7 linked regions of the Homo sapiens genome follow. The protein of the gene in region 6 interacts with the protein of the main gene of each other region in a pairwise test. Each region holds a gene or a part of one and is shown on either strand. Other genes may lie near its edges. The genes, in order: ZBTB8A, NKD1, ZNF581, KLF3, MAB21L3, DVL3 and FAM13C.

Region 1 (4,128 bases), on a different chromosome or scaffold from region 6:
CTCTATTTTTATGAGAAGGGCAGATACTCAAATTGGCAGGTGAAACGCATTTTATTCAAGACATATTTATTGAGCAACTACTCTATACCAGACTATACCTGGTCCTGAGAATATAGAGGTGATGAAATGTCAAAGGTCAGTGCTCACTTTCAAGCAGCTCACTGTCTAGTAGGAGAGAGAGAGAGTCAGAGAAGAGACAGGAAGAGAAGAGACTTCTAGACAAAGTGACAATACAATGAAGAAAATACTCATAGTAGAAGGGAACTGTAAAACAAAGAAAGCAAATGATTGTACCTGGTAGTATTGAGAAACATTTCCAAAAGGCTCAACGTTTAGGTTGGGTCTTGAAGGATGAAAAGAAGTTTATACATGAGAAAGAGGGCAAAAGGCGTTCTAGCCAGAGAGAGCACCAAATGGGAAGGCAAAAACAGCGTATTAAACAGCATGGCCTCCTAGGGGATGGTAAGAAGTTTGCTATAGCTAGAGACTGTGGGCCTACAGAAGGATGGCAGAAGATGAAACTAGAAAAGTATGTAAGAGCTAGATCTTGGAAGCCCCTCCAGTTTTGGGGGTTCTGAGGCACTTCTGAAGGATTTTAAAAAGAAGAAACACAGGATTATAGGTCTACCAATCATTAGCTGTGTGACTTTGTCAAGTTACTTAACTCTAAGCATTCGTTTCCTTTTTGTAAAATGAGGTTATTGACTGTTTAGAGGCTCTAAGGAAGTCTGTTAAGAGGATTAAATAAGATAATCGCTAAAATAAATAAGATTAAATAAGACAAATAGAAATAAGCACATGAAGAGATGTTTAGCATCATTAATCATTAGAGAAATGCAAATCAAAATCACAATGAGATACTACCTCACACCCACTAGGATAGTTTGCTACAATAATTTTTTAAAATTTTTTTCTTCTTCTTTTTCTATATTTTCTTTTTTTTCCATGTTTTTCCAGAGATATAATAATTTTTTAAAAAACATGAAAATACTAAGTGTTGGCCAGAGTATAGATAAGTAAGAACCTTCACACACTGCTGGTGGAAATATAAAATGGTACAGCGACTTTGGAAAACAGTCTGGGAGTTCCTCAAATGATTAAACATGGAGTTATCATATGACCCAGCAATTTCACTCCTAGGTATATATTCAAGAGTAATGAACACATACGTCTACACAGAAACTGATACACGAATGTTTATAATAGCATTATTTGCAACAGCTAAGAGGTGGAAACAATCCAAATGTCCACTGACGGACAGGTGGGTAAACAAAATGTGGTATACCCATACAATGGAATGTAACTCGGCCATAAAAAGAATGAAGTACTGATATGGTCACGCGCCGCATAACATTTTGGTCAACAACTGACTACATATACGACGGTGGTCCCATAAGATTATAATACCATATTTTTATTGTACCTTTCCTGTGTTTATTTATTTGTTTATTTATTTTTGTAGACAAAGTCTTGCTCTATCCCCCAGGCTGGAGTGCAGTAGCACCATCTCAGGTCACTGCAACCTTCGCCTCCTGGGTTAAAGCAGTTCTCCTGCCTCAGCCTCCTGAGTAGCCGGGATTACAGGCACCCACCGCCATGCCTGGCTAATTTTTGTACTTTTAGTGGAGACGGGGTTTTGCCATGTTGGCCAGGCTTGTCTTGAACTCCTGACCTCGGTGATCCACCCACCTTGGGCTCCCAAAGTGCTGGGATTACAGGCGTGAGCCACTGTGCCCAGCTTTCCTGTGTTTAGATATGTTTAGATACACAAATACTTACCATTGTTTTACAAATGCCTATAGTATTATGCTATACAGGATTGTAGCCTAGGAGCCATAGGCTATACCATACAGCCTAGGCGTGTAGTAGGCTATATCAGCCAGGTTTGTGTAAGTACATTCTATGATGTTCACACAACAACAAAAATCACCTAACAACACATTTCTCAGAACATATCCCCATCATTAAGTGACATATGACTGTATATACTACAACATGGGTGAACCTTAAAAACCTCATGCTGGCTGGGAACGGTGGCGTGAGCCTGTAGTCCCAGCTACTTGGGAGACTGAGGCAGAGGACTGGTTGAGCCCAGGAGGTCAAGGATGTAGTGAGCCAGGATTACGCCACCACAATCCAGTATGGGTGACAGTGAGATCCTGTCTCTAAAAAACAAACAAGTCTGGGTGTGGTGGCTCATGCCTGTAATCCCAGCACCTTGGGAGGCCGAGGCGGGCGGATCATGAGGTCAGGAGACCGAGACCATCCTGGCGAACACGGTGAAACCCTGTCTCTACTAAAAATACAAAAAATTAGCCGGGCATGGTGGCAGGTGCCTGTAATCCCAGCTACTCGGGAGGCTGAGGCAGGAGAATGGCGTGAACCCAGGAGGCGGAGCTTGCAGTGAGCCGAGATCGCGCCATTGCACTCCAGCCTGGGTGACAGAACGAGACTTTGTCTAAAAAACAAAAAACCTGATGCTAAGTTACAGAAACTAGTCATAAAAAATACATATTTTATTTATGATTTTATTCACATGAAATGCCCAGAATGGGTAGATCCACATAGGAAGTAGATGAGGGGTTATCAGGAGCTAGGGAGACATGGGAATAGGAGTGACTGTTAACAGGCATGGGGTTTCTTTATGCAAATGATGAAAATGTTCTGGAGTTAAGAGGGTCATGATGGTTGCACAATTTTGTGACCATATCAAAAAACTGAATTGTACACTTTAAAATGGGTAAATTTTATGGCGTAAGAGTTATATCTCAGGCCAGGCGCAGTGGCTCACACCTGTAATCCCAGCACTTTGGGAAGCTGAGGCGGGTGGATCACCTGAGGTCAGGAGTTTGAGACCAGCCTGACCAACATGGTGAAACCCCGTCTCTACTAAAAATACAAAAAATTAGCCGGGCATGGTGGCAGGTGCCTGTAATCCCAGCTGCTTGAGAGGCTGAGGTAGGAGAATTGCTTGACCCTGGGAGGCGGAGGTTGCAGTGAGCCCAGATCACACCATTGCACTCCAGCCTGGGCAACAAGAGTGAAACTCCGTCTCAAAAAAAGTTATATCTAAAAAAAAAATAGGAATTGTCCTATACACTGGGGTCAGTTACAACCTGATATTCACATTGAAAGGATTTTAACATAACATGCATTCATAGTAGTACTCTTGAGTCATCAAAAAAGGTTTAAGTTATTTTCAGAATTATGTGATTAGGTCATGGAAATCGGTAATGCATTTCAGATTTTCTTCTTTCAGTAGAGTGACTTTATACGTTGAAACAGCAAGTTAGATCAATTTATATGGGACATCCAAAATCCAAATGGAAACATTTTAAATATCTGTAAGAGTTAAATATTATAATAGTCCCAAGAATATAACAGAATTCAAGATTTCCATCAAGTTCAATGATCTTTAAAAAGGTGGTTGGGAAAGACAATTACACATTTTAGGAACCATTAAGTTCGAAAGTCTTTGGAATAGAAGCCAATGACATGTATTTCTATGAGTAGACTGAAGATTTAAGTAGCGAGTGTAACTTGAACTAAGGTTGTCGTTGAGAAGATCAACTCTCTTTTTTTGAGACGGAGTCTTGCTCTGTCGCCCAGGCTAGAGTGCAGTGGCGCAATCTCGGTTTACTGCAACCTCTGCCTCCCAGGTTCAAGTGATTCTCCTGCTTCAGCCTCCCGAGTAGTTGTGATTACAGGTGCCTGCCACTGTGTGCTAATTTTTGTATTTTTAGTAAAGAAGATGGGGTTTCACCTTCTTGTCCAGGCTGGTCTCGAACTCCTGACCTCGTGATCCACACCCCGCCCCCCCGACCCCCGAGGCCTTGGCCTCCCAAAGTGTTGGAATTATAGGTGTGAGCCACCACACTCGGCTGGGAAGATCAACTCTTTTAAGATATATAGTCATTAATCTAAAATTTAATGTGTCCCACCAGGGTCAGCAAAACTAATCTTGTTAGCCTGCTTAGCAAACGTTCCTGAGTCATAAAGAACTTCAGCTAACTAGAGTGGTAACTGTATTCCTTGATGGATAAATGATCCTTCAGCTTTGGAAGATTTAGAATTAAGTACAGATGCTCTTCAACTGACGATGGGGTTACATTCCAATAAACCTATTTT
Region 2 (4,128 bases), on a different chromosome or scaffold from region 6:
CCCTTCCCCCGCCCCCGTTAGCATCTTGTCTCCACAGAAGCCCGCTCCCCACTGGGCCAGACCGACTTCAAAGGTCCCAGGCTGTCTGTTAGAAGCAAAGCACAAAGTGGGAACATAGGGGCCTTTTAAATCCCCCACGTTTAAGTCAATATCATGCCTCCCTCCTTTCCCCTCTCCTGGCAGAGGGACATAAGTCAGCCCTTCCCTTTCTGCCTTCACGAGAGCCAATTCAGCAACTACCAGAGAGAGGAAATTGGGGCCTCTTTCTCTCCCAGTCTCTCTGTCTTTGCCCTTTCTTTCTTGCCAACTTTTCTTTTTGTTCTTTCCCTCGCTTAAGAAGATGTTCGGCAGCACGGAAGGTAGTGCTGATCCCACATGTAAGCAAGCAAGCGGATCCTTGAGCGCTTTCATGGGTAAGAACGTCATAAACAACGTGCATCCATTCGGTTGCCGTGGGATCCTACCAAGAGAGCCTCCTCTCCGGGCTACTGTTTCCAATCCCTTCTCTGCGTGGTGGTGGCTAGAGTGTCACATCCTCTCTCTCCCGACTGACCACCTAGCTTCCTGATGTGTCTCTTGGGGTGACAAGCAGACTCTCCACCATTCAGGCCCCCAGATTCTGCCCATACCGGGCCTCCTCGTTGCCAGCTGTACCCGGCCATACAGGCCTGCACCAGTTCATCAAGCGTTCACCCTCCATCCACCCTTGAGGCCCTTGTACCAGCTGCTCCCTCTAACTTTCCACCTGGCTAATTCTTCCTCACCCTTGAGGTCACCCCCTAAATGTGGCTTCCTGGAGAGTCCCTCTGCAGTCCCCCATCTCCATCATGTCCCCTCTGTTATTCCCTCCCATGTCTCCCCAGAAGTTATCGCAGTGGATAAAAATGTCGTTTCTGGGTGGAAGCAGTCCCCCCGTCCCCCACACTAGATTAAAGCTCCACAAAGGTAGGTAGAGATGATGTCTGTTTTATCGAGTGCTGAGCATGGTTCCTGACACATAGTACTTGATCACTAAATCTTTGAAAGTACGGATGAACAGAAAGCCTGGAGATGACGGTGGTAAAGGCCAGCCAGGCCTGAGCAGGTCCTTTCTGGGCAGGAAGTGCCAAGTGTGGGTCTCTCTTTGCTCTGCCCACGTCTTGCCCAGAAGCTCAGTTTTGGCAGCTCCTTGCCACTGGGGGGTGGTCACACCACAGAGACTGGCCTGCAGTCTAACTAAACTGCTTAGCAAGACGGGGTGAGATACTCGAATGCCAAATTCTTTCTCCCCAGTGAAGAAAGGAGGGAGGAGGGAAGGAAGGGAAGGCGGGAAGTTCACATGCACCACACTGGAAATATTCTGGCCAGGAATTTCTGGACCAAATCACAATCAGATGCTGCCTTTTGAGGACAGAGTCAGAGGAAACAGAATCAGGTGATGTTGGCTAAGATGGCCAGGGGCCCATCTGGAGAGGATCTGGCCAGGGGACTTGAGCCACTCAGAGTCACCCTGGGCCCCAGTACCTAGATGTGCTGAGAGCCCACAGGCCGAGCCCAGTGACACCATCTGAATATCCCCAGGAGGTTCTGGGTTTCCAGTCTGTCTGCATGCTGTCACCCTTCTCTGGGGGCAGCATCAACATTCCAACAACTCTCAGCATCAGGAACCCGCAAGAGGGGTGCCCCTTTTCCCATCTGTCTTTATGAATTCTATCAACAAAGACACATGGAGTGTCAACAGCAGGCCATGTGCTAGGTCCCGCTGGGGGCGGGTGGGGAGGCCAGGAATGTGTTGTCCTTCAGTCGCTCAACAGACATTGAACAAGCACCTGTCTTTGCTGGGCCTTTGGGATTATAAGATAATCTGGTGAACAAGTGCTTTGGTGGAAACCAAATAATTAGAGGCATAGATAAGTACATACGGTGGATCCTCACCCTCCGTGGATTCTGTATTTACGAAATTGCCTATTCACTAAAATTTGTCTATCACCCAAAATCAATACTCATGGTGCATTCACTTCATTCGTGATATGCGCAGAGCAGTGAAAAGTCTGAGTGGCCCGACAACATGTTCTCAACTGAGGTCGAACAAGATGATGCTCTGCTTTCGTGGTTCAGTTCTCATCCTATACACAAACATCCTTCTCACAGTCTGTTTAGCATCATGCTTTGTGCATGTTTGTGCTTTGTGTTGGTGATTTGGCTGCTTAAAATGCTCCCCAGGCATGACGCTGAAGTGCCATCTTGTGCTCTTAAGCACAGAAGGCTCTGATATGCCTTGCAGAGAAAATATGTGTGCTAGATAAGCTTCATTCAGTCATGAGTTATAGAGCTGTTGGCTGAGTTCAATGTTAACGAATCAAGAATATATAGTAAATTAGGCATCTTTAAACAGAAGCACACATAAAACAAGGTTATGCACTGATTGGTAATGAAAATGTTGTGACCAGAAGCTGGCAGGAACCTAACCCTGTATTTCCCCTAGGATCAGTAGTTCAGTATGCGCTAACTCAGTGTCAGAGGTGACTTTATAAGATGTAACTACTGCGATGAGTGAGAATCAACTACAGTTACAAACATGATCAATGTTATGAATGAAGGGGACCACAGGGCACCCTGAGAGCTTGGGGCACCATCTTGCTGAGGCTGAGGTCTCGGCCACACCAGCAGCCCCAGCTCCCCTTGCCTCACGTGTCCCTGGACTTGGCTGGAGTAATGGCAGACAACGGAGTAGGACTGGTCTTTGTCAACCTGTATCAATGCCAGCAGGCTCCTGGAAAGGGAGGGTCATGTGGCTAGCATATGTCAGGCTTATGTTTAATCCTACCATGCATTAGCCACAAGTTAGGTAAGTTGCTTAACTGAACTGTAACTCTGTTTCCTCGTTGGTTTCCTCTCAAGGCTGTTTTGAGGACACTAGTGAATGTGGGCTGGGTGCACAGTAGGCACTCTGTAAGTGGCAGATATGGCAATGTGGACTCCTCAGCGATCCTGCAGCTTAGGAGTTGGGCAAGGACAGACCCAGATGTAGGGTAGCGAAGCATTGCTCCAGAGGCCACCTCTTTCCCCAAGGAAGGCACTGCTGGCATGGCTTTCAGGCTGCCCATCCCCACCACTACCCCTACTGTTTGTAGGACTTAGAGCTGCCACCCCCATAGTCTAGCTTCAAGCCAAGGGCAGTTTCATAATACAAATATGGTACTGAAGGCCAGAGACAGCAGGGGCTTGTCCAAGTTCACACCACAAGTCGGGTCTGGAAGGAACAGAGTGATCCCATCAAACTTGAGAGGGAAAAGTCATGTCCTCAAGTGTTTTTTGAGTGTGTAGCAGAGGCAGCATGCCACAGCAGCTGTCTCACTGGGGGCTCTGCAGCCGGGGTGGAGGACAGGTACCCTTCATCCATCAGGACTGCACCTCCTTTCCCATGAGCCTTCTGGGGTCACATTCTCCTAACTGCAGCTACTGTTGCTGTTTTACTTATCGAGGGCCTATTACGTGCCAGGCTCTGCGCTGAACGCTTCACGCCCACTGGATCATTTACTCATAACAGCTCAGTAAGGTAGTTACCCCAATTAGCCCCATGTTAGAGAAAAACACCAAGGCACAGAGGTGAGTCACTTGTCCCAGGTCACACATCTAGGAAGTAGTAGAACCAGGACTCAGCTCAGGTCCAAAGTCTCAACCATGGGCCAGTCTGCTCATCTTAGCCAAACCCCCAGGCTGCATTCTGTGGTCCAGCTACTGGATCCTGCAACCTTCTCAGACTCTATCCATGAAGCCAAGTGCACAGGATCTAGGACATCAGGTCCAGAGAATTTGGGGCCACATCTTCCTGGACCTGCAGATGGGCAAGGACCAGACTCTAGCCTGAACAGTGAGATGCAGCCCAGAGAAGTGGGAATCCACAGACAGAGCCTGGCCTGAGACTCCTACTGAGACTGCCCATGTGGCCACTCGGGGAGTTCCCGTCCCCTGCCTGATCAGCAGTCTTTTTGCTTCCCCCTCCAAGAGAGCTGGGGGGCATTCCTCCAGGAAGCCTGATATGTAACAAACTCCTTTCCCATTTCTTGCTTTGCTTAAATCTCCAAAGTCCCTGGAGCTGAAGCCAAGCGGGCCTCATTAGGTCCACTTTACAGAAAAGCAAACTGA
Region 3 (4,287 bases), on a different chromosome or scaffold from region 6:
AGACCAGCCTGACAAACACGGTGAAACCCATCTCTACTAAAGGTACAAAATTAGCTGGGCATGGTGGCACACGCTTGTAACCCCAACTACTTGGGAGGCTGAAGCAGGAGAATCGCTTGAACCCAGGAGGTGAAGGTTGCAGTGAGCTGAGATCACGCCATTACACTCCAGCCTGGGTGACAAGAGCGAAACTCCGTCTAAAAAAAAAGAGGCCAGGCGCTGTGGCTCACACCTGGAATCCCAGCACTTTGGGAGGCCGAGGCAGGTGAATCACCTGAGGTTGGGAGTTCAAGAACAGCCTGACCAACATGGAGAAACCCCGTCTCTACTAAAAATACAAAATTAGCTGGGCATGGTGGCACACGCTTGTAATCCCAGCTACTAGGGAGGCTGAGGCAGGAGAATCGCTTGAACCCAGGAGGCATTGCGGTGATCCGAGATTGTGCCATTGGACTCCAGCCTGGGCAAAAAGAGTGAAACTCCGTCTCAAAAAAAAAAAAAGGAAACTTGGTTCACGTGTATTTTGCTTATCTGTATACTCTATTGCCATATAAAATGTGTTTGTAACAGGAGATTGTGGTTTTAAAATTGTTTCAGTTAAAAACATTCTTCCCAGATGACCCAGGTCTTCAGGAGCTGAGGAGGGGATAACCCCAAGGCAGGCCAACCTTCCCATTCCCCAGCCAGGCAAGCTGAGGTCTCCCTGCTAGACGGCCACCAAAGAGGGTCTGAGATGCTGTCTCTAAAAACAAACCTCGAGTGCTCAGAGTGGGAAACGTGTTTATTGTTTGATCAGTCTCAGGCCTGGTTGGGGGGTGGAAGGCAGGACTGGGGTCCCTTCCCCAACAACAGCGCAGAAGCCCCAGGAAGATGGCGCAGATTCCTGACGACCCACAGCCACCTTTTATGAGGCCAGAGACTTTACACACCACACTCCCCACCTCCATCCAGTCAAGGCTCTGCCATGGAACAGCTGATATCTTTAGGCTAGAGGACTCCATTCTGTGTAGGGGCTCATTCCCATCTCAGCTCCAGAACACGGAGGACCTGAAGATTACTCACGGATTCCTCCTTCAGGCAGGGCTCTGCCTTTGAGATGCGGCTGCTCTGTGTCTGTGTCCAGGGCCCTGAACACCAGCCTCAGGCTCTCACCAGGTGTCTGGACAGGAGTCCAGGCTCCCTGCAAAGTCCTGTGGTACCTGGGGCACCCGGCAGCCCGGCTCATGGATGCTTCCACCGCGTGTGTTTCTGCAGTGTGTTCTGCTCCATAAAGCGGCGAGGGCAGTGTGGACACTGAAACGGGCGTTCCCCAGAGTGCACCCGGCTGTGCTGGGCCAGCTCACCCGCATCCCGGAAGCGGCGAGGGCAGAGCGGGCAGCCGTGGGGCCGCCCACCACCCGCCAGGTGAATGGAATGGTGCCGTGCCAAGTGGCTGGCGCGCTTGAATGCCTTCCCACAGATGTCACACTCGAAGGGCTTTACCTCCGAGTGGGTGATGCTGTGTCGCTGAAGGTAGGACATGTACTCGAAGACCCTTGAGCACACGGGGCAGCTGTAGCACTTTTTCTGGCCTGGAGCCCCACTGGCCCCTGGCTCCCTCTGTGACTCCTCGTCCACCAGCACTGTGTAGGGGACACCCTGAGTGTCAATAAGCAGGTAGTGGTTGGGCCTTGGAGGAGATGAAGCCTGGGGAGATCCGATGGAGGAGGAAGGTCCAGGTTCTGGGGAGCGGCAAGTCCGACGGGGAGGGCCCTCCATGGTCTCAACGGAGGAAAATGCCAGAGGCTGAGGGCAGGGGGATGGCAGCACCAGCATCCGGAGGGCTGGCTGAGGCCTGGTGGATGGGAGATGGGATAAGAAGGTTATATAGAAGAGGGCAGCTCAGCACCACAGGCTCCATCCTTTTCCCTCCCTATACCCGGCCCAGGACCTCTGCATCCTGCTGCCCCTCAGTCCCTCTTTTCCAGTCCCGCTCACAGCTGGAGTCTGTGGCCCCCTAAAAGGTCCCCAGGGTCTTCCTCCTTGGAAAACCTCTCCTAGCCTCGGTGCTCCACCATACACTGTACTCACAGGATCTCTTGACCTCCTCTGCACAACCTGGACCTCGCTCTAACCTTCCTCTTTGTGCCCTCCCAGGTCACTGGGTGCCCCACCCCGCAGGCCTCCAGGCCTCTCCCTCCCCTCCTTCTAGCCCTTTCCAGGGTCTGCGTGTTGGCCTATGCTACATACTCAAGCCTTTCCTGACCCCCTCCATACAAGCCAAGCCTATTCACAGGGGCTCCGACGTTAGGACCCCCAGGTTCCGGCCCTCTCTCCAGCCACGTGTCTGAACAACTCCGTGCTCCCACCCGTCCACCCACCTCAGGTTCTCTCTAGTCCTCGCCCGGCCTCCACCAGGCTCGTTCTAGGTCCCAGCGCTCTCCGGGGTTCCACCCCCGGGGCCGCAGCCCTCGCTTTCTGGGCCTTTCTGTGTAAGTTCTCGCCCCCTCCAAGCTCCAGAACAGCCCCCTCCGGCGTCTGCCCCACTCCCGCCCCGGCCCAGGTACCCTCCACGCGGTCCAGCCCCTCCCGCCGCCCGCCCCCAGCCCCCTTCCTCCTCCCGGCCCCCGTACCCAGTGCAGCAGCCTCTCAGGTCCGGGCGACTCCAAGCGGCCCCGGGCTACCCTCGCAGTTGCAGGCGGCGGCGAGAAGGGGACCTCTGGGTGTGCCCCAGGAACTGGCGGCGCCGGCCGAAAGAGAGAAGCCGAAGGGAGAGAAGAGGGTCTAGGGAAGGAAGGTTGGGGCGGGGCGCCCGGGCCGTCGCGAAACGGCTCCGGCCAGAAACACACACCGAGAGGAAAGTACCCAAGCGAGGAAGATCCGGTCTCCACCCCCCAGCACCCAACGTGCACGCACACGCAAGGAAGAGCCTGAAAATGGAGTGCGGAATGTTTATTGAGCAAAGGGTCGGGGGCGTGGGCGGAAGGGGGGTAGATACAGAAATGAACCAGACCGTGCCCGTGCTCTTTATCATCTCTTCCCCGCAGACAACCACCGGTTCACCGCTCCAGAGAGCAGAAAACCAAGGTTTAGAGAGGTCATGTCACTTGCACAGGCTCACACAGCACAGCTGGACTGGAACCCAGTTCCGACTGGTTCCCAGGCCCAGGGAGGGGCAACGACTTTGGTCTACATCACACAGCTAGAAAGGGGGTAAGGAAGGAATGATGCTCCTCCCTTTGGAAGGTGGGGAAACTGAGGCCCAGGGTAAGGCAGTAACCTCAGCAGAGCCAGGGGGTGTGTGTGGGAGTGAGTGACGCTGTGTGGGTCAGACTTGGTGGCCCTGAGACGGGCAGGGCAGCACAGGCCGGGTCTCGAGCTTAGTGGAGGCGCACGTGCTGCGCCAGCTCCGCGGCGTCCTGGAAGCGGCGTGGGCAGAGCGGGCAGGTGTGCGGCGGCCCGGCGCGGGCGCGGTGCGTGGCGCGATGCCGCGACAGGTGGCTGGAGCGCTTGAAGGCCTTGCCGCAGGCGCCGCACGTGAAGGGCTTGAGGTCCGAGTGCGACACGCGGTGGCTCTGCAGCCGCAGAGGGCTGGCAAAGACACGGGCGCACTCCGGGCAGCTGTAGCCCTTGCGAGGGCCGGGCTCTCCTGGGGGCGCCTCGCGCTGGGGCGGGCCCCGGGGCTCCTCCTCCAGCTGCACCGTGTATGTGTAGGGGACCCCATTGGCGTCGATGAGGAGGTGGCGGCCCAGCCGCGGGGGTCGGGGCCCCGCCGCCGAGGAAGGAGTGGAGGAGGGGCCTTCCGCCTTGGGGAAAGGGGGAGCCTTGGGGGGCGGTGGGTCCATGGCCTCCGGAGAGGAGGACCGAGGGTGGGGTGGCCGCGGCGGCAGCAGCAGCATCTGGAGCGGCAGCTGGGAGCGGCGGAGGGGAGATTAGTTAAAATTGCCACTTCCTTTTAGGAAAAGTTTCCTAAAATGGAAAGCATCCCCACTATCACTGCTTGTTACCCTTTGTGCGCCACTGACTACCTCCCTAGCAAAATAAAAACTGTGACTCCAGCCCGGCTCTCCCACGTTCCATCAAGCTGCCTCGGAGAGGGCCTCCAACTGAGCTCTGCAAAACCCCGCCACCACCTGCCACTCCTCCTGGGTCCACCTCTCACCACTCAGGTCAGGTCTGAGGACGTAGTCCCCCGACTTTTCTTCCCTTTTCTCCTCTCAACCCACCCCAGCAGACAATCAATCCCTAAATCTGTTTACCTCTTTACATCTTAGACCCCGGGCCTCCTGACCGCCGAGATTTCTCTAA
Region 4 (4,128 bases), on a different chromosome or scaffold from region 6:
GTGTCTGCCTGCAGACCCGGGCACTTTCTGTTCTGCTTCAGAGCCTGTGCTGTGGGACCGACTTTTAGGTAAAATCGCCTAATGCTGGGGTCTTTCCCCAGTAGGGAGGGTGTGGGTGTGCACAGCCACACTGGCCCATGGGAAGCAGTGCCAGGGGGAGGTTCCAGCAGGCAATTAAGATTTCAAAATGCCTTTTCAGGTTAGATCACTGTAGATCTACTCCATCCTATGGCATAACTCAGAGTAATGATTGCACATAATTTGAGATTAGCTCTAATAAGTAGGTACTCAATAAATACTTGTGAGATGAATAAATGAATGGATGTCAAACTACACTTCTCACATGCTAGGATAAATTAAGGGCAAGGGCCCTGGAATGATGGTACACCAGGTGTCCTACATGGAAACTCTGTCCAGCGGCTGGTGAAGCCAGCCTGAAACCTCATCTTCTAAAATGCAAAGTAAATGTGAAAACTTTGGGAGCCTGGGAGAGAAAAACTCCCTGGTTTGGAAACTCAGCGGAACAGGAACTCGATCTTACAAATGAAAGAGGCTTTGGAGTGTGAAGCTTTGGAAGGTACCAGGGATGCAAAGTACAGGAACAGATAAAGGAGTGGATTTCAGTGATTACACTTAAACAACAGTGGTAGTAGAAAGAACAGCATATAGGCCAGAGAAAAAACCCCACACTTGATTTGCAGGTCGCTCTCCAGGGCAGAATCCGCTGACCTCAATACTCATTTGATCTCTTATGTCCAGATTTGGCCAAACTCCACTGATTTGGGTTGAGACTAGCTCTGGGCCATCCCTGGCAGGATCCACAAGCCTTCCAGAGACTGGCAACCATCCTGAGGATGTCCCAGACTAAGCAGGGCAATTCTGGGTCCTCCTGCAAAGGGTCTGCCTCAGGGAGCGCCCCCTTACAGGAAACAGGGTAAGAGCCAGACCCAGGGGTTACATGAAATGCATGGGCTAGAGGGCCACTTAACTTGCTCTCTTCTGTCTCCAGCCCTTCTAAATAATTAGATGGAGAAATGATAATGAATTCAGCCTGCCGACACAATGGAGTGAGTTTCAAAAACCTCCAGGAGCCTGTTTTGCTAAAGAAACAATTTTACTACAAACTCTCTGGCCAACGGATACAAAATGCACAGATCATTTTTTTATTTTCTTACTGTTCCAGAGAATATGGTCACATTCATTACAGAATAAGGACAAGGCCAGTTAAGAGGACATCTTTTTTTTTTTTTTTTTTTTTTTTTTTTTTGAGACAGAGTCTCACTCTTGTTGCCCAGGCTGCAGTGCAGTGGCACAATCTCGGCTCACTGCAACCTCCACCTCCCAGGTTCAGGCAATTCTCCTGCCTCAGCCTCCTGAGTAGCTGGGATTACAGGCGCCCACCACCACGCCCGGATAATTTTTGTACTTTTAGTAAAGATGGGGTTTTGCCATGTTGGCTAGGCTGGTCTCGAACTCCTGACCTCAGGTGATCCACCCACTTCGGCCTCCCAAAGTGCTGAAATTACAGGTGTGAGCCACCGCGCCCGGCCGAGGACACTATTTTTTTGCTTTGGAAGAAATGAATCCTAGTTTTGGTTCAGAAACTGTCAACAGCATTGTGCCTCTTCTATGACTACTAAATTTCAAGCAAAGAGAGCTGAGTTGGGGGTAAAAGCAGGGCTATTCCCCGCCTTCAGACAATGCTGTCCCTTATCAGGGCAGACTGCTGTCTGGTTTCCTGTCTCCAGCTCGGGCATGACTGCTTAAGATGAGAAACATGGTCTAAGAAAGGAACAGAGTGGTCTTGAAAATGAGAATGCTAGCGACCACCATAACCCTCTTCCAACTCACTCCCAAGAGGAATTCTGACTAGAATATCACATACTAGCAAACTAGATATCAATTGTTTTAAGATTCTAGGGATTTGCTTTTTTAAAAAGCTAGAACCAATGATAAATGATGCACTTCAGAAAGAATCCAAGTTCCAGAATAATGTAATTGTAATTCCTAGTACCTTAAAGAATGAGGTTGTGTGTATTTTATTTTTCTTAAACTCAACTGGGTGTGAAAACAGAGAACAAGAAATGCTGCCTAAGAAATCTGTCGTTTTATAGCAAAAATGTTGATTTGAAAATATTAAGAAGGCAAGTATCTCAAGGGGCGATGGAGACACAATGAAATTAAATTAGGAATCATGATTTATATGGTTAAGAAATTAAAACTCTTGTTCCCATCTTTCTGGTAATCATAGCAACTATAAGATAGGATAATTTTCCCCAACTATTCAGCTTAGCATTTAGAAGCTTGCAGAATTTTTTTCTGATAGAATATATTAGACCCTAATTATCTCTATTAACCACTTCATCTCCCTGCAAAAGAGAGAAGAAAGAATTTGGGGAAAGCCAAATAAAGACTCTGTTTACCAAACCTAGTTAGATTGTTAACAACTTTGGAACCAAAACAAACAAAAAAACCTGCTTCGATTGGAGTTACTTATGAATTTTAAGCTTAAAAGTCTCTTGTCCTACAGGTCAGCTAAGTATTTCCAGCTGCTTTTCCCAAAGGAGAAAGAAGTTATTGGGACTTCTAAAACTCCCAGCTTTTTTCATAGAAGGTTATCAGTAGCCAACTATTTGATACTAATAACTCTCTTAATATCATATTTTATATTTTCCATTTATACATAAAGAATGTGGTGGAATGTGACATTTAAAACGCACCATTATCATCAATTTTGGGGAGAAGAGAGCCTGATTTGCTGCTTCAGCAACTCTTTAAATTAATTCCACAGAGATGCTGTAGATGATTCCTTTTGATTAAAAAAAAAAAATCCCCAAGTAAGTTTACAAAAGCACTTTCCAAAACTTTTCTTTTTCAAGCAAATATTTCCTTAAATCTTAGTTTCTCAAGAACCAACAGAAAACTAATATTAAGGCAGGTCTTAAATAGTTATCCTAGAAATTCATTAACCCACAACTGATAGAATATTTTTAAAAAATGAAAAATATTATTGTAAAACAAAAATGAGAAGAGCATTCTTCTTGTTTTCAAAATAGAAGATTAAAATTTTCCAAACAATCTAGCATTAAATGAATTTGTTAATGCCAGTTCTCCTTTGAGCTTTTTAATTCTTAAAAACGGGTTGGAAATGAGGTGTAGAATATTGCACAGTGAAATCTTTGTCCTTAAAACATTATCCTGATATTTAAATCTTTGTCCTTAAAAAGAAATAATCCCGGGATTTTCTCAATGTCTTAGGCTTTGCTTCAATGATTTTTCTAAAGATTTCTCCTTCCAAACATAAGCAAGACTTAAACTAAAGCCAGGCTGCCAACATTGCTTAAATTCTCCATCCACGGAAGCCACCTGGAGCAGCCTGGGTTAAACGTGAACGAGGGTGGGCCACATCTTTCAGATAATGCTAGGTCTTCTAAACTGTAAGGTGTTAATCCTGATCCAAAATTGACAGCTTCAGGGCAAAATGCCTATCTTAAAACAAACGCCCTAACCACTTCAACACAAGAATTACAAACAAATACAAACAAAACTCCTTTAGGTTTCTTTGCCAGGATGGACCCACGTTTCCCCAAATCACAATCTAGCAATAAAAAATTTAAAAAGGTAAAAGCATTTATTCACCCAGACAAATGCAGTGGAGCAAAGGGTGTACGTAAAAAGGTTAACTGACTTCTCATTATGACATAACACAGGCGTCTTAAGCAATATCAAGTGTGTAGAGACATGATAACTCCATGGGTGGGGATACGGAGTTTAGGGGCAGGGACCTCAGCCTGGTCTGGGCTACTGATCTACCAGAAAACAGCCTGAAACAGGAAAGAGCACACATATGCCACTTGGAATGTATGACGCAAACCCCAGCCTTGAAACAAAGAACAGGAAACAGCTCTGCTGGCTGTGCTGGAGAGAAAGCACAGAGAAACATTTAGCCGGCCCTCCCTGACCCTATATTCATGAGCAGCTGGAGTTTTTTAAGACAACAACAGGGGGGTGGAGGTGTTTGTTCTACGGGTGTGAATAATAACACCAGCTTTATACAGGGGACCTGCCCTATTTACAAATAAGAGCTGCCACATACAGTAAACATCATAAGTGAAATGTGATTTTATC
Region 5 (4,777 bases), on a different chromosome or scaffold from region 6:
AAAGTCAGAGTTTGTTCCTGGCTAATATGGTGAAATCCCGTCTCTACTGAAAATACAAAAAAATTGGCAAGGCGTGGTGGCGGGCGCCTGTAGTCCTAGCTACTGGCGAGGCTGAGGCAGGAGAATGGCATGAACCTGGGAGGCGGAGCTTGCAGTGAGCCGAGATTGCGCCACTGCACTCCAGCCTGGGCGACAGAGCGAGACTCCGTCTCAAAAAAAAAAAAAAAGTCAGAGTTTGTAATCCTGCAAACTTTAACAAATTTGTATATTTAAGGTTGATTTTGATCAAGCTAACCTTCCTCCTTCTTGGAATTAAAATCTCAGACACTAAGTAAATCAGTAACAAACACTTCTGCTGGTAAACCAGGGCTAGCATTATCTCCCCGGGACTTCTCAGATTGGCAGCGTAGGGTTTTGCATGCCTTGTTAACCTGACTTGTAATAAGTTCTTAGTCTTCACAATGGAAACTGAGCCAAAGCAGGTTTACATTTCCGTACTTGCATTTGGTGTGAGTCATGAGAAAGGAGAATATTTATTTTCTGAGGAAGGAAGAGAACCTGAGCTAACTTTGAATTTCCTCAGTGGCCTAGCATACAAGTGCCTTAGGCTTACTGTAATTCAATCCTTTTGCGAATCCTATATCCAATTACCCAGATATCTACATCTAAAAAAAGCTTGTCTTCATCAAACTGTCAGACAGGAGCTGTCAGAGAGTCTATTTGTGGGACTGCCCTGTATTTCAGAGCATTTGCCCATAAGGAGCTAAATCATGGAGTAGGGAATTGGGTTGTGCCCCCACAACACACCTATTCCCTGGATATGACATCCTGGTAAAATCGGACTGTGTAGCTTCCCTGAGCACATGATTATTTCTTCGTTTCCTGATTGCTCAGTTGGCCCTGTTGGTTGCTTTCCCTGCTCACAGCCGGCAATTGTCGCTGGATCGTAGGGCAAGAGAATATTCCAGTTATAACATTTTGATCAGCTGCGGTACTGGAGCAATCAAGATAGGGCAGCCACAGGTGCAAAAATAATGAAAGTTTGTGCATCTGATGACAGGTGTCTGGGGTAACCCTCGAACATTAGGAAAGACCCCACCGGAGGAAAGGGACTCACAAGTTAATGATTACAGTGAAAGCAGAAGTAACAACAAAAATGAGCACATGAGAGAAACAGTGGGACTTTCGTAATGTTGAAAATGAGGTGGAGAGAGAATTCTAAATTGCAAGTTCAGAGAAAGAGGCTCTTGCTGTCTGTGAAAAACAAATAGTTTGGCACTACTATGATAAGAAAAGCCCAGGGAATAAGATTCTGAAAAATTTGGGAGCACTTGATATCAAAAGAAGGAGATTTAGAATTACATATAGAAACAAATGGAAAATCAAGGCTGTTTTGAGGGGTGCTATCAGAGGGTCATTGGAGAGGATGTAGCTTTACAATATTTATATCAGGCTGTGCATTGGCAGGAGTTCTGTAGAAGTTGGACTGAAAGCTGGAGGTAATGACGTGGGTGGGGCACAGAGCAGCTAGGGAGCTCTGATGCGGCTTTTGCTTGGGGCAGAGTATGGGAAGATATGCAAACGCTGAGGCCCCAAATAGTGCAGTGGCCTTTGTGGGCAGCACTTACAGGTGGGCTTGGAAACACTTGCCTTTGGAACATTGTTTAAAAGTAAGTAGTGCTCCCAGAAGGGCTGTAATTTCTTTAGATTATCTGATAGCAGACTCCGTGATGTTTACCAGCTTCAAGGAGATCAGACCATTGTGAAATTTTTTTTTTTTTTCTGTAGTAAAACTAGCCCCAGCCAGCCCAACTGGGAATTTACTGCCTGAGCTGTTTTCCAACATAAGTTTTGCTGGCAAAACCAGACGTGAGTGTTCCCTCGACTCTAAAGGGACCTGTTTACACTGACTTTATTTTTACTGCCAGCTTTCAAGTTGGAAGAGGGAAATTACGTTTAAAGGTCAGCAGGTGAGCAGAAGGATTCCTGACCAGCCATTCCTGTGGGTGTGTGCCCGTGTGCACTCTGTGTACGTGTGTGTGCCTGTGTATATGTGTGTGCCTGTGTGTACGTGTGTGCCTGTGTATATGTGTGTGCCTGTGTGTACGTGTGTGCATGCTTTTCTAAATGCCAACCGTTGTGCTCTGCGCTGGCTGACAAGACCTGATCACTTGTTTGCGGGCATAATGATGGGTGTCAGGCTGGTTGTTGGGCAGTTTCCTATTTGTTTATTGTAAAGAAGGTAAATCAATCCGTGGGATTTTCTGGCTTGGAGAGCAAGGGGTGTTTACTGTCAACAGGATAAGGACCAGGAGATATAAGATACTGAGTTCCACGGTGCATCTAGTGTTGGGACAGGAGCATAAAAGGTGGGGAGAAGCCAACTACAGGGTATTTCTGACTTGGATGGAACTTTTAAGTACTTGGGTGGGAAATACAATTTGGAAAATTGCTCTCTGGTGAAAGCACCAGTCAATGTAGCTAACTAAGGTATGATTAGGTTGGACTCAAATTCAATTTTATCAACTCTTCTTTTTAAATTCTTTTTTTTTTAATTTCCCAAAAGATGACAGATGGATTTTCACAATTTGGAAATAAAAACATGAGTGAAGGGTTCGGAAGGCAAGTCTCTGGTCCATTACACACTTCCAGAAAAACTTAGTACCCAGAGACTCACATTACTGGGAGTGCTATCTACTCACAAGTGTTGCACTCCATTGAGAAAAAAAAAAAAACCAGGAAGTTGCTGTTCTACTGAGGACTGACCAAGAAGCCATGAAATACCTTACTGTGGGAGACTTAGAAGATTGCCTACTGAATAAGGTAAGGACAGACCCGGTCTCTCCCATGAACCCCCTCCCCATTCACACTACTTCCAAACAAACCTTCGTCCAGAAAGGATCTCAGGCTCTTTCTAAAGACACATAAAATGCTCCTCAGAAAACAGACTGTCACCTATAACAATGTTTGGGGGCTTAACATATATCAGCCTTACTTCTCTTTGAGGGTCTGGTACCCAGAGACATGCTGAGTATAGAATATAGAATGGAGAGTAGGAATCTGGGGAATGAGGGGGAACTCCAGCTCTGCCACTGACACTCGTGTGGTTGTGAGTCACTTAACCTGCCTGAGCCTTGGCCTTCTTCTCTGTAAAATGGGAATAATAATAGGAGCTTCATGGGGTAATGGAAAAAGAGCTAATGAAATTAAAACAAAGCTTTTTAAAGACTGTGAAAGTACTAGGTTTTTAAATATTATTATATTTTTAGTACACATCAGTTAAGAACTTAATTTCTTCTAGATGGTCTAGATGGTCATGTCAAATGTTAGAACTTGAAGGAAACTTAAATATTACCTAGTTTAAGCCTTTTCATTTACGGATGAAGCTACTAAGGCATGATGTTAATGTTAAAACCAAAATATTTAAATTGACTAAGAAGTAGGCACTGGTCTGCAGTTTTCATGCCTTTACAAGTTCGAAAGAGAAGATCATTATCATAGTGATAAGTAAAATGTATTTCTTAGGCAAAACCATTAAGAGAGATAAATAAGGAAAACCTGGGATGATAAAAACTAGAGTAAACAAAGTGATTTCCCATTAATTCCTCCCTTTGAGGGCTCTAAGTGGAAGAGATATTGGCTGGCATTTTTTTCGTGGGTCCTGTATTTTTTGTAAGAAAAAACTCCAAACTTTTTAGTGTGGTGTTCAAGTAACTTCAACTGCTCTATCTTTCTACCCTCCGCTCCCCCTGCATTTCCAATAGCAGAAATCCTAAACAGTGTTCGACACGTTGAATCCAGTGTGTGCTCATGTTTTGTTTGGCCTGTAGATTATTTCTAATGTTTTTCACAAACATTTCAAAATAGATTTTGCATAGAAATCCAGATTTCTGTCTTTCCAGGGGAAAAAAATCAGAATATTTCGCAACTACAGGTCCCAGTTTCTTGCCTGGAAACTGTGTGCTGGGGCTGAGTGTTTGCTAGCCAGAGCACGTGCTGGCCAATTCTCAGGAGGCTGATCCTGTGTCTGACACTTGCTCCTGGTCCCCGCTGCCTCTCTCACGTGTGTCCCCTACTCCATTCCTGTAGGTGGTTGAGTCTCCCATTTCTGCCCAACAAGAACTGGGCCCTGAGCAGGCCAAGGGCCCCAGCTCCTCCTCGCCACTTTTCTGGCTCATATTCATCCTTCAAACTCAGAGTCCACTTTCTCAAGAAAGAGTCCCTGACACCCCAGCACAAAATGATTTTGCCCACATATTCACTCCCGTTATAATTAGTATTACTGGCACCATTTATTTGATCATGAGTTTGTATATTAACTCCTGACACTTTTCTATTATCATCTTGGTTGGCAACTTACATGTCATATCATTTCATTCTTTATAAGTTTCTGGAGGGAAGAACAGTGTCTTGCATACCTTTCTTTCCTTTGACATTCAGAGTATCTTGCACATATATGATCAGAAATATCTTTAGAGTTCGTTAAAGGCAAGAGTGGTGTGGAAGGCGACAGGTCAAGGTGCATACAGGATCTCATTTAACCTAATCAACAACTATGTGATGTACATATTGCCTCCATTTTTAGAGGAGGAAACAGAGGCTTGTGGAGATTAAATAACTTGTCCAAAGTTACACAGCTAAATTGAGAGGGTACTGAAGTTTCAGCCTTGTCTTCTTTACTCCAAAGGCCGAACGTCCTCTGCCAAACTCCTCTATATCTCTGCAAACACATACTAAGCACCTGCTTTGTGCAAAATACTGTGCTACGGTTTGAGGG
Region 6 (4,128 bases):
TCATTTAATACAACAATGCTATAAGGCAGCAGGTACAATGGGGAAACTAGGCTCAATAGGTTCAGTAATTCTCCTAAACTGCTGAAATTTGAATCCTGGTTAGCCTGACTCTAACATCTGCATTCTTACCATTACACCACCTTATCTTCCTATAGTTAGAACCTATAATCTTCACATCAGCCTCAGTGGGCAGACTATGATCTTCATTTCATGAATAAGGAAACTGAGATGTATTCAGTTAACTTGTCCAAGGTCACAGGACTGGTAGATGTCAGAGCTGGAATTTCACCCCAGGCTTGACTCCAAAATCCATACTCTTTCCACTGTATTTCACATTCTTTCCTATATAATAACAGAGGTAATGTGGGTCTATGTGGAGAGTGGGTGCTGGAGGACAATGATGTGAGGCATGAAGGGTGTGGAATGTGGTCACGGAGCATGTAGTTTGGCCGGGGGAATGTGGTGAGGCAAGAAGTCAGGCAGTAACTACAGTTTGGGGCTAGGAAGGGGAGTGGAAAAGTTTGAGGACCCTCAGACTGTCAAATATGCCAGGAGTACAGAGATGGGAAGACATGACCAAGGGTAAGATGACGCATGCCAGGAGCTCTGAGCAGAGAGGGAAGACAGCAAGGAGGAGGTTGGGAAGTTCAGTCCCCACTTGTTCTTTGGTTTTTTTTTTTTGAGACGGAGTCTCGCTCTGTCACCCAGGCTGGAGTCCAGTGGTGCAATCTCAGCCCACTGCAACCTGCGCCTCCCGGGTTCAAGTGATTCTCCTGCCTCAGCCTGCCGAGTAGCTGGGATTACAGGTGCCTGCCACCACGCCTGGCTAATTTTTATATTTTTAGTAGAGATAGGGTTTCACCGTGTTGGCCAGGGTGGTCTTGAACTCCTGACCTCAGGTGACCCGCCCACCTCGGCCTCCCCAAATGCTGGGATTACAGGCGTGAGCCGCCGTGCCTGGCCCCCCTTGTTCTTAGAGCAGCTTCTGCCCAGAGCTGGGAATGTGCTTGGCTCCCTTGTGATGCTCACATTTTTGGACTCACAGCCAAGTTCACAGGCCAAGCCTGCCCTCCCCACTCCCATCCAGCTCTGGCTCCTCTATCATTCCCAGAGCCACAGCGACCCTCGGAAAGCAGCCCAAATCATCCTACTGCGGCCCACCATGGCAGAAAGTGTAGAAAGGACAGGCTAGAAAGAAGGGACACAGAGGTAGCTCAGACCCACCAGCCACTCTGGCCACAGGGTACTCCAGGTTGGCAGCCCCACAGGGCTCAAAGGAAAAGGGAATATGTGGGCCACATGGCACAGCCTGCTTTGGATAGGGTCTGCCTGTCTGGGGGAAATTGCTGCTGAGTCCCTACCTCCCTGCTCCCCTGGCAGGCCCCACCACACTGCTCCACACTACACGTTTCCTCTCTTTCTGGGGGTCATCGACAGGCCACCAAGGCTCTGCTGACTCAAAACAATCAGCTGATCTTCAGCAGCTTTGGGGAACCTCAGACAGGTCTTACTCTCCCACCATGGAGCTGAATGGCTGGGGTTTACATAGCACTTACACACACACACACACACTCATACCCCAAATGGAGTCAAACAAATAATGACTCAAATTCCAATTCTACCACTTACTGGCCCTCTTATCTTAGAGAAGTTTCTTAATTTCTCCAAGCCTTTGTCTCATCCTGGTAAAAGGGATCCTTAAATGCCTGGCATGATCCAGGCATACAGTAAAAGCTAATTATATTGTCCATTTTTAGCAGGATCCATACACTATTTCTAACTACGTATACATTATTAAGGGCAAAGCAAATAAACCTGTTCATCATTCATTGTTCATCCAATTAAAATGCTTTGACTGGCAGGGCACGGTGGCTCAGGCCTGTAATCCCAGCACTTTGGGAGGCCAAGGTGAGCGGATCATGAGTCAGGAGATCAAGACCATCCTGGCTAATACGGTGAAACCCCGTCTCTACTAAAAATACCAAAAAAAAAAAAAAAAAATTAGCAGGGCGTGGTGGCGGGCACCTGTAGTCCCAGCTACTCGGGAGGCTGAGGGAGGAGAATGGCGTGAACCCAGGAGGCGGAGCTTGCAGTGAACCAAGATCGTGCCACTGCACTCCAGCCTGGGCGACACAGCGAGACTCCCTCTCAAAAAACATACAATAAAATAAAAATAAAAAATAAAAAAATAAAAATAAAATAAAATAAAATGCTTTGGCTGAGGGCCCAGTGGGTTTCAGGTCCTGAGCTTGCTATTGTAGGTTTTCTCATGAAACATCAGACCCAGAGCCTGCCTTGTTCTCAGAGAGACTATGGTCCAGTGGATAGTTCATGGAAATATACTGCAATCCAGGAAGTGGTTGGAGCCGTAGGAGCAGCACATGTGTTCAATGGATAGACATCTGCTGAGTGTTACACAGGTGTCAGGATATAAAGATAAAATATACCAGGCACGGTGGCTCACACCTGTAATCCCAGCACTTTGGGAGGCCAAGGTGGGCGGATCACTTGAGGTCAAGAGTTCGTGACTAGCTTGGCTAACGTAGCAAAACCCCATCTCTATTTAAAATACAAAAATTAGCCAGGTGTGGTGGCACACACCAGTAGTCCCAGCTATTTGTGAGGCTGAAGCAGGAGAATCGTTTGAACCCGGGAGGCAGAGGTTGCAGTGAGCCAAGGTCGCACCACTGTACCCCAGCCTGGGTGACAAAGCCAGGCTCCATCTCAAAAAAAAAAAAAAAGGATAAAATAAGAGAGTGCCATGACAGTTCTCACAGAAAAGCTCAACCCAGAAGACAGGAGAATTTGAACCTGGAGGAGACAGGGGAAGAAGAGTCTGCAGGTGGAAGGCCCAGAGGGAGGACAGTGGAGCAGGAAGCCACACAGCTAATGACCTGATCGCCATGCTGCCCTCTCTCACAGCTCAAGGCCAGACTAGCAGTAGGCACCTTACTTCTATGAACCATCCACCATGCCCTCAATGCTGAAAATGTTTATCCTTCCTCCATTTCTCAAATAACTTAAGATGGCAGGCCAGGCGCGGTGGCTCATCACCTGTAATCCCAGCACTTGGGGAGGCCGAGGTGGGTGGATTGCTTGAGGTCAGGAGTTCCAGACCAGCCTGGCCAACGTGGTGAAACCCCATCTCTACCAAAAATACTAAAATTAGCCAGGCATGGTGGCTCATGCCTGTAATCCCAGCTACTTGGGAGGCTGAGGCAGGAGAATCACCTGAACCCGGGAGGCGAAGGTTGCAGTGAGCCGAGATTGCGCCACTGCACTCCAGCCTGGGTGACGAGAGCAAAACTCCTCAAAAAAAAAAAAAAAAGAAAAAAAATTTAAAAAGATGGCTGGGCCTACCCTGAGCTTGACAAATACTTTTGTAGACCAGATGGGACTTGAGGAGCCTCACAACTAGCACCTCAAAGGCTGAGCCAGGAGTGGAGAAACTGGAGAGACAGCAGCCTTCCTCCTCTGACCCACTTTCCTTCCTCTAGGGTCACTGACCTCCGCCTGACCTTCCTCTTGTGGGGCTCGGAGAAATGGTGGCCTTGTCACCTCTACAGTTTTCCAAGGCTTACCACCTCCCTCGGAGAGGATTCATCAGTAAAATGGTGATAATAATGACACCTAAAATTGTGCGATTAAGGATTTAGATTTTTGGATCCAGATTCCTGATGTCAAAGCAAGCTCTGCTCTGCCTCTTATTAGCTGTGTGACCTTAGGCAAGTTACTTAAGCTTTCTGTGCTCTAGTTTCCTTTTTTTTTTTTTTCTGAAACACGGTCCCACTCTATTTTCCAGGCTGGAGTACAGTGGCACCATCACAGCTCACTGCAGCCCCAAACTCCTATGCTCAAGTGATCCTCCTGTCTCAGCCTCCCAAGTTGGGACTACAGGCACAAAGCATCATGCCTGGCTAATTAAAAAATTTTTTTGTAGAGATGGGGTCTTGCTATGTTGCCAAGGCTGGTCTCAGATTCCTGGCCTCAAGCAATCCTCCCACCTCAGCCTCCCAAATTGCTGAGATTACAGGTGTGAGCCACCATGCCTGACAGAGTTTCATTTGTAAACTAGAGATACTATTACGCTATCTATTTCATAAGGCTGTTTCGAAGATTAAATGAGTG
Region 7 (4,128 bases), on a different chromosome or scaffold from region 6:
ACTCCGGAATCTCTAAAACCTGACAATATTCCCGAGAAGTCAGTTTGTTAGGGGGATACACGGATTTCTAATATCTTCACTAGTGGTAGTCAAACATACTGTCCCTCTACCCCCACAGATCAGTAAAAACTGATCTTAAACAAGTCAAGGCTACCATAGGAACTTACATGCAGGCTGAAGAAAATTAATGGTTACTTTAAATTAAGGATGTACAAGGAAGTATAAAATATGCTCAAGGTGACATGATCATAAACATAATAGCCTGAAATATGTGCATTGTTAATGACCAAATCTAGGGGTTCTGTCATTTTTTTTCTTTAAGGATCCACTAAATCCATGTAACAATGGCAGGTTGTTGGTGAGAGGGAGGCACAGGAAGATGGCAGATTTTTAAAACTCAAAGGAAAAAACTACTGTGTGACAGGATCATCACGTGTACATGAGTTTAGGTATGCTCATTGTAAAACACAAGGCATGATTCTGTCAGTTCTAAAGTGATTTAAAAACCATACATTTTAAAATTAAAATAGAAAAGAAGATTGACAATGTTTCTTTCCTAGAAGAGCTTGAATAGCAGACTGGTTTCCCTGAGGGATGGCAGAGGGATAGGGAAGGGGTTTTGGCGGGGGGGGGGGGGAATCCTGGTTTCAGGACCATGGACAGTGACACGTGGCCATCAATCCCCAGCTCTCTAAAACAGCTTAGCCTAGTCCTATCTATGGTTTGCTAGAATGATGCACTGTATCGTCTAGTACTTTGGTTTGGGTAGCAGTCTGGTTACACGGAAAGTCAATGTTTTACATTTGGTTTCCCAAAATCCTTAGAGAATTCTCCACTCCGATCTGAGAACACACCTTGTTGAACAATGCTTCACTGGATCTGTTCCACACAGTTATTTCCATCTTTTGAAATATGGTAAAAACAAACACACACACACACAAAATCCTAAGGCCTTAAGCCAGTGACTGCAAAAGAAATAAGTTTTTACTACGGTGCATAGAACTTAGAAGAAATTTAAGGCTAAATTTCTGACAAAATAATTTAAAGCCTGAAATCAGTTTCTGAAATGAATTTATTTCCCTACCCTTGAAGAAGCTGTTAAAAGGGTTAAATCAAACTCACATGGATGGCAGCTCTCAAATCACATGGAAAGTTCTCATATACAAGCTGTAGATCTTCAAGACTTTTAACTTCTTAAGTGAAATATTCTGATTCAAAAGACCCCAAACGTCATACACACGGAAATTACATAGGTTTAGATTTTGTTCAATGCAATTAAAATTGACCTCCTAAGTGCCATTGTATGAGATTTGTGATCTGCCAAAGATGGTTCAAAAAGACACATTAGAAAAATTACTGGGAGGGTTATAAAAAGACCTCAGTTGCTGTTCTGGCTAGAACTATTCTTTGCTGTGTGATTCTGGGAAACTCACTTCCCCTTTCTGGGCCTCAGCATCTTCAGTTGTCAGATAAGACAAAAGACTGATTCTTTCCAATTCTAACATTCCCTGATTCCACTGAAGGTAGACGTGTGGCTGACGCAGCCTTTTCTTAGCCCAAGAGTCCAATAATCAAATGCAAAATCAGATGTAGAGATGTAGAGAATTTGGGGTAGGTATATAAAATGGTTACAGTAAACAGAGATGGAAAGATATACGTGATACATGGGTATCAAAATAGCACAGAGGCCCAGCAGGAGCCCAGATTCAAAAATTAGCAATGGGTGGTATGAATTCCACAGTCAGGCTGTCAGGAAGGGGAGCCTTACACACAGCAACCAGTTAAAGCCCACTGACATGTCAAACCTCTAAGCACAGCCTGGCATGCTGACAGGAAGGAAAAGCGTTTCCTGAGACCTGTGAGGTTCTGATAATAACAAAGACTTCTATAGACACTGAAGCAGCGGTGACCAAGGAGCTTCCTTCCCCTACTGCTCCCTGATCTGTCCTTCCATATGTGTATTTAAGTCTATGTTTGTGTGTGTGTACATGTGTGTGCATGTGCATGTGAGCTCTAGCTTCAGAAAACTCTAGACAAAGGCAGAAGATGTTTCCAGGAGGAATTCTCTTCCAAAATAAGCATCCAAGATCTGTGGCTGTGGGTAGAAAACTCCAGTGGAGAATTAACATGTACAATTTTCCTTTATTTTCTGACAAGGCAGAGACTGCCATGGAGTAGCCTATTTAAATATATAACTCATAGATTAAAAAGTTTGTGTTATCTAGGACCATTTACTTCCTTTGTACCAAACACTGTAATAAGCATTATGTATGTACTTCCTTATTTACTACTTACAAACTTAAGAAGTCGCTACCTAATACTCCATTTTACACATGACCAAACTGAGACTCAGAAAGATAACAAGTCCAAAATCACAGAGTTCTTAAGTAGCCGTGCTGGATTCAAATCCAAAATAGTCTGACTCAAGAACTGCCAGATAAGAAGTGTTAACAGGTGCTGGGAATGGAGCCCCTGGTTGTTACTCTGTATTTTCCAATACGAGGACATCATAGATCCAGTAACACGCCAGCAGCAAACAGGTGAAATAAACTTCTCCCAGGATATCTGGATCTTTTAAAAAGCAGACACTTAAAAATTTTACTTCTATTCTATTGCAGAACCTACTCATCTGTAATCCACTGACCCAAGTTGCGACCTGATAGAACACAACTATCTTAGGCAAGTCATTTCCATCAGGTGTCAGTTTCATTATCTGTAAAATAAAATCCTGGACTAATAATGTGTTGAGCTCCCTTCTGCTCTGTAAAAGACAATAAATAGCTGTGACTGCCTGACTTTGGGGAAGACAATCTTCAACATCCTGACTAAAGTTGCCTTGAAAGCCAAACTGATTTTTCCCCCATTTTTGCAAAGCTAAAATCTGCTCCTTAAAACTCCTCCTTCAGTGAATTTCAGGCCACTGTGGGAAGCAGGACAGGAAGAATGGAAGAGTGGAATATTATCCATTCTCACCTCCCTCCCCAGTACTTACTCTCATACTCACAAGAACTTTCCAATTGCCTCTGTACCAAGTGTTTAGTGAACCTTTAAATATTTCAAGATGTATGAGAGATTATTCCCTGTTCTCTTTTATTCTAATAACAAGCTATTCTGAGCTCTCTGCCGAAGACCCAATGTCTTTGTCCAGTTCTCTGTGGATATGCTTTTTCTGTATGCCATGGTCACTACTGGAGAAAATAAAAGCAACACTGACCATCAAGACACTTACCTATGACCCTATTGTTTCTTACATAAGAAGAAAGGAGGCTCATGTTTGCTGCAGTGCAGTACTAGCATGAAAACTAGTGTCTCTCTGATGGGGAAAGGAAGGCTTAGGGTTGGTTCTTATGAGTGGCCTGAACAGATGTCACTTGAGAGGTCCTCATTCACCAACAAGGAAATACTTTAATGTCAAAGAAACCATCTCTCCCTCATTCTGTTCCACAATTGGAGACCCCTCCCTTGGATCTTTAATAAGTTCTTATCAAAATGCAATTGAGAAAAAGTGAAAAAAAAAGAAAAAAGAAAAAGAAGAAGAAGAAGAAGAAGAAGACCATAATTCAAAGCTTTCCAAATTTTGTTCCTCAGAAAAAAAAAGGTGAGATCAATAATCAAATAAGTTTGGAAATAATAGTTGTAATCCATTACTAGAAAATATCCTAGCAGAGATCAACTGACAGCAGGTGAGAACAAGACAGATAGAAGATGAAGACTCTATGATAGGTCCAGGTTGGCCCATGGGAACAGAGCTGTCCCCTGGCAAAGAAGGGCACCCAGAAAGGAAGGACAGAGGCTGAGGAGAATCCAGACACCTCTGACCAATCCGCTCCTATGTCAAACCCCAGGGTTCTTACCCGGTATTTCTTTTCTTGTTCAAATTTTTCTTCAAATTTCCGAATTTTCCGCTTGAGGCTCTGGATGTGCTTGGTGAGCTGGGTGATGGTCTGTGGCTCCTTGCCATCTCCACAGCTGCAGCGTGAAGAACTCCGCGGCCTGCAGTGATTACAAGGAGGAAGGAGTATCAAAAACAGTGGGCTTCCAGTAAACAGTTCTGTTGATCTACAAACCAAAATTCCTGGATTGTCAGAGAAGTCCAGAGGGAAGTTCATTATTTGATGAGGCCACCAT

Evidence for each region.
Region 1: the proteins of DVL3 (region 6) and ZBTB8A interact in binary tests that used the Homo sapiens proteins (3 or more experiments, as listed by UniProt).
Region 2: the proteins of DVL3 (region 6) and NKD1 interact in binary tests that used the Homo sapiens proteins (3 or more experiments, as listed by UniProt).
Region 3: the proteins of DVL3 (region 6) and ZNF581 interact in binary tests that used the Homo sapiens proteins (3 or more experiments, as listed by UniProt).
Region 4: the proteins of DVL3 (region 6) and KLF3 interact in binary tests that used the Homo sapiens proteins (3 or more experiments, as listed by UniProt).
Region 5: the proteins of DVL3 (region 6) and MAB21L3 interact in binary tests that used the Homo sapiens proteins (3 or more experiments, as listed by UniProt).
Region 7: the proteins of DVL3 (region 6) and FAM13C interact in binary tests that used the Homo sapiens proteins (3 or more experiments, as listed by UniProt).

The regions. Positions count from the first base shown.
Region 1 is NC_000001.11:32,542,028-32,546,155, reverse strand, and holds part of ZBTB8A (zinc finger and BTB domain-containing protein 8A), read right to left. Parts: intron 1-4,128. UniProt on the Homo sapiens protein: May be involved in transcriptional regulation.
Region 2 is NC_000016.10:50,642,002-50,646,129, reverse strand, and holds part of NKD1 (protein naked cuticle homolog 1), read right to left. Parts: 3' UTR 1-4,128. UniProt on the Homo sapiens protein: Cell autonomous antagonist of the canonical Wnt signaling pathway. May activate a second Wnt signaling pathway that controls planar cell polarity.
Region 3 is NC_000019.10:55,642,100-55,646,386, reverse strand, and holds ZNF581 (zinc finger protein 581), read right to left. Parts: upstream 2,739-4,287; 5' UTR 2,613-2,738; intron 1,835-2,612; 5' UTR 1,816-1,834; coding exon 1,222-1,815; 3' UTR 764-1,221; downstream 1-763. Other genes in the region: ZNF580 (zinc finger protein 580), read right to left, coding at 3,360-3,878. UniProt on the Homo sapiens protein: May be involved in transcriptional regulation.
Region 4 is NC_000004.12:38,667,033-38,671,160, reverse strand, and holds part of KLF3 (Krueppel-like factor 3), read right to left. Parts: intron 1-4,128. UniProt on the Homo sapiens protein: Binds to the CACCC box of erythroid cell-expressed genes. May play a role in hematopoiesis.
Region 5 is NC_000001.11:116,109,841-116,114,617, forward strand, and holds the start of MAB21L3 (protein mab-21-like 3), read left to right. Parts: upstream 1-1,558; 5' UTR 1,559-1,670; exon of another isoform or gene 1,671-1,788; 5' UTR 1,789-1,970; intron 1,971-2,566; 5' UTR 2,567-2,775; coding exon 2,776-2,823; intron 2,824-4,777.
Region 6 is NC_000003.12:184,157,980-184,162,107, reverse strand, and holds part of DVL3 (segment polarity protein dishevelled homolog DVL-3), read right to left. Parts: intron 1-4,128. UniProt on the Homo sapiens protein: Involved in the signal transduction pathway mediated by multiple Wnt genes.
Region 7 is NC_000010.11:59,264,699-59,268,826, forward strand, and holds part of FAM13C (protein FAM13C), read right to left. Parts: intron 3,994-4,128; coding exon 3,855-3,993; intron 1-3,854.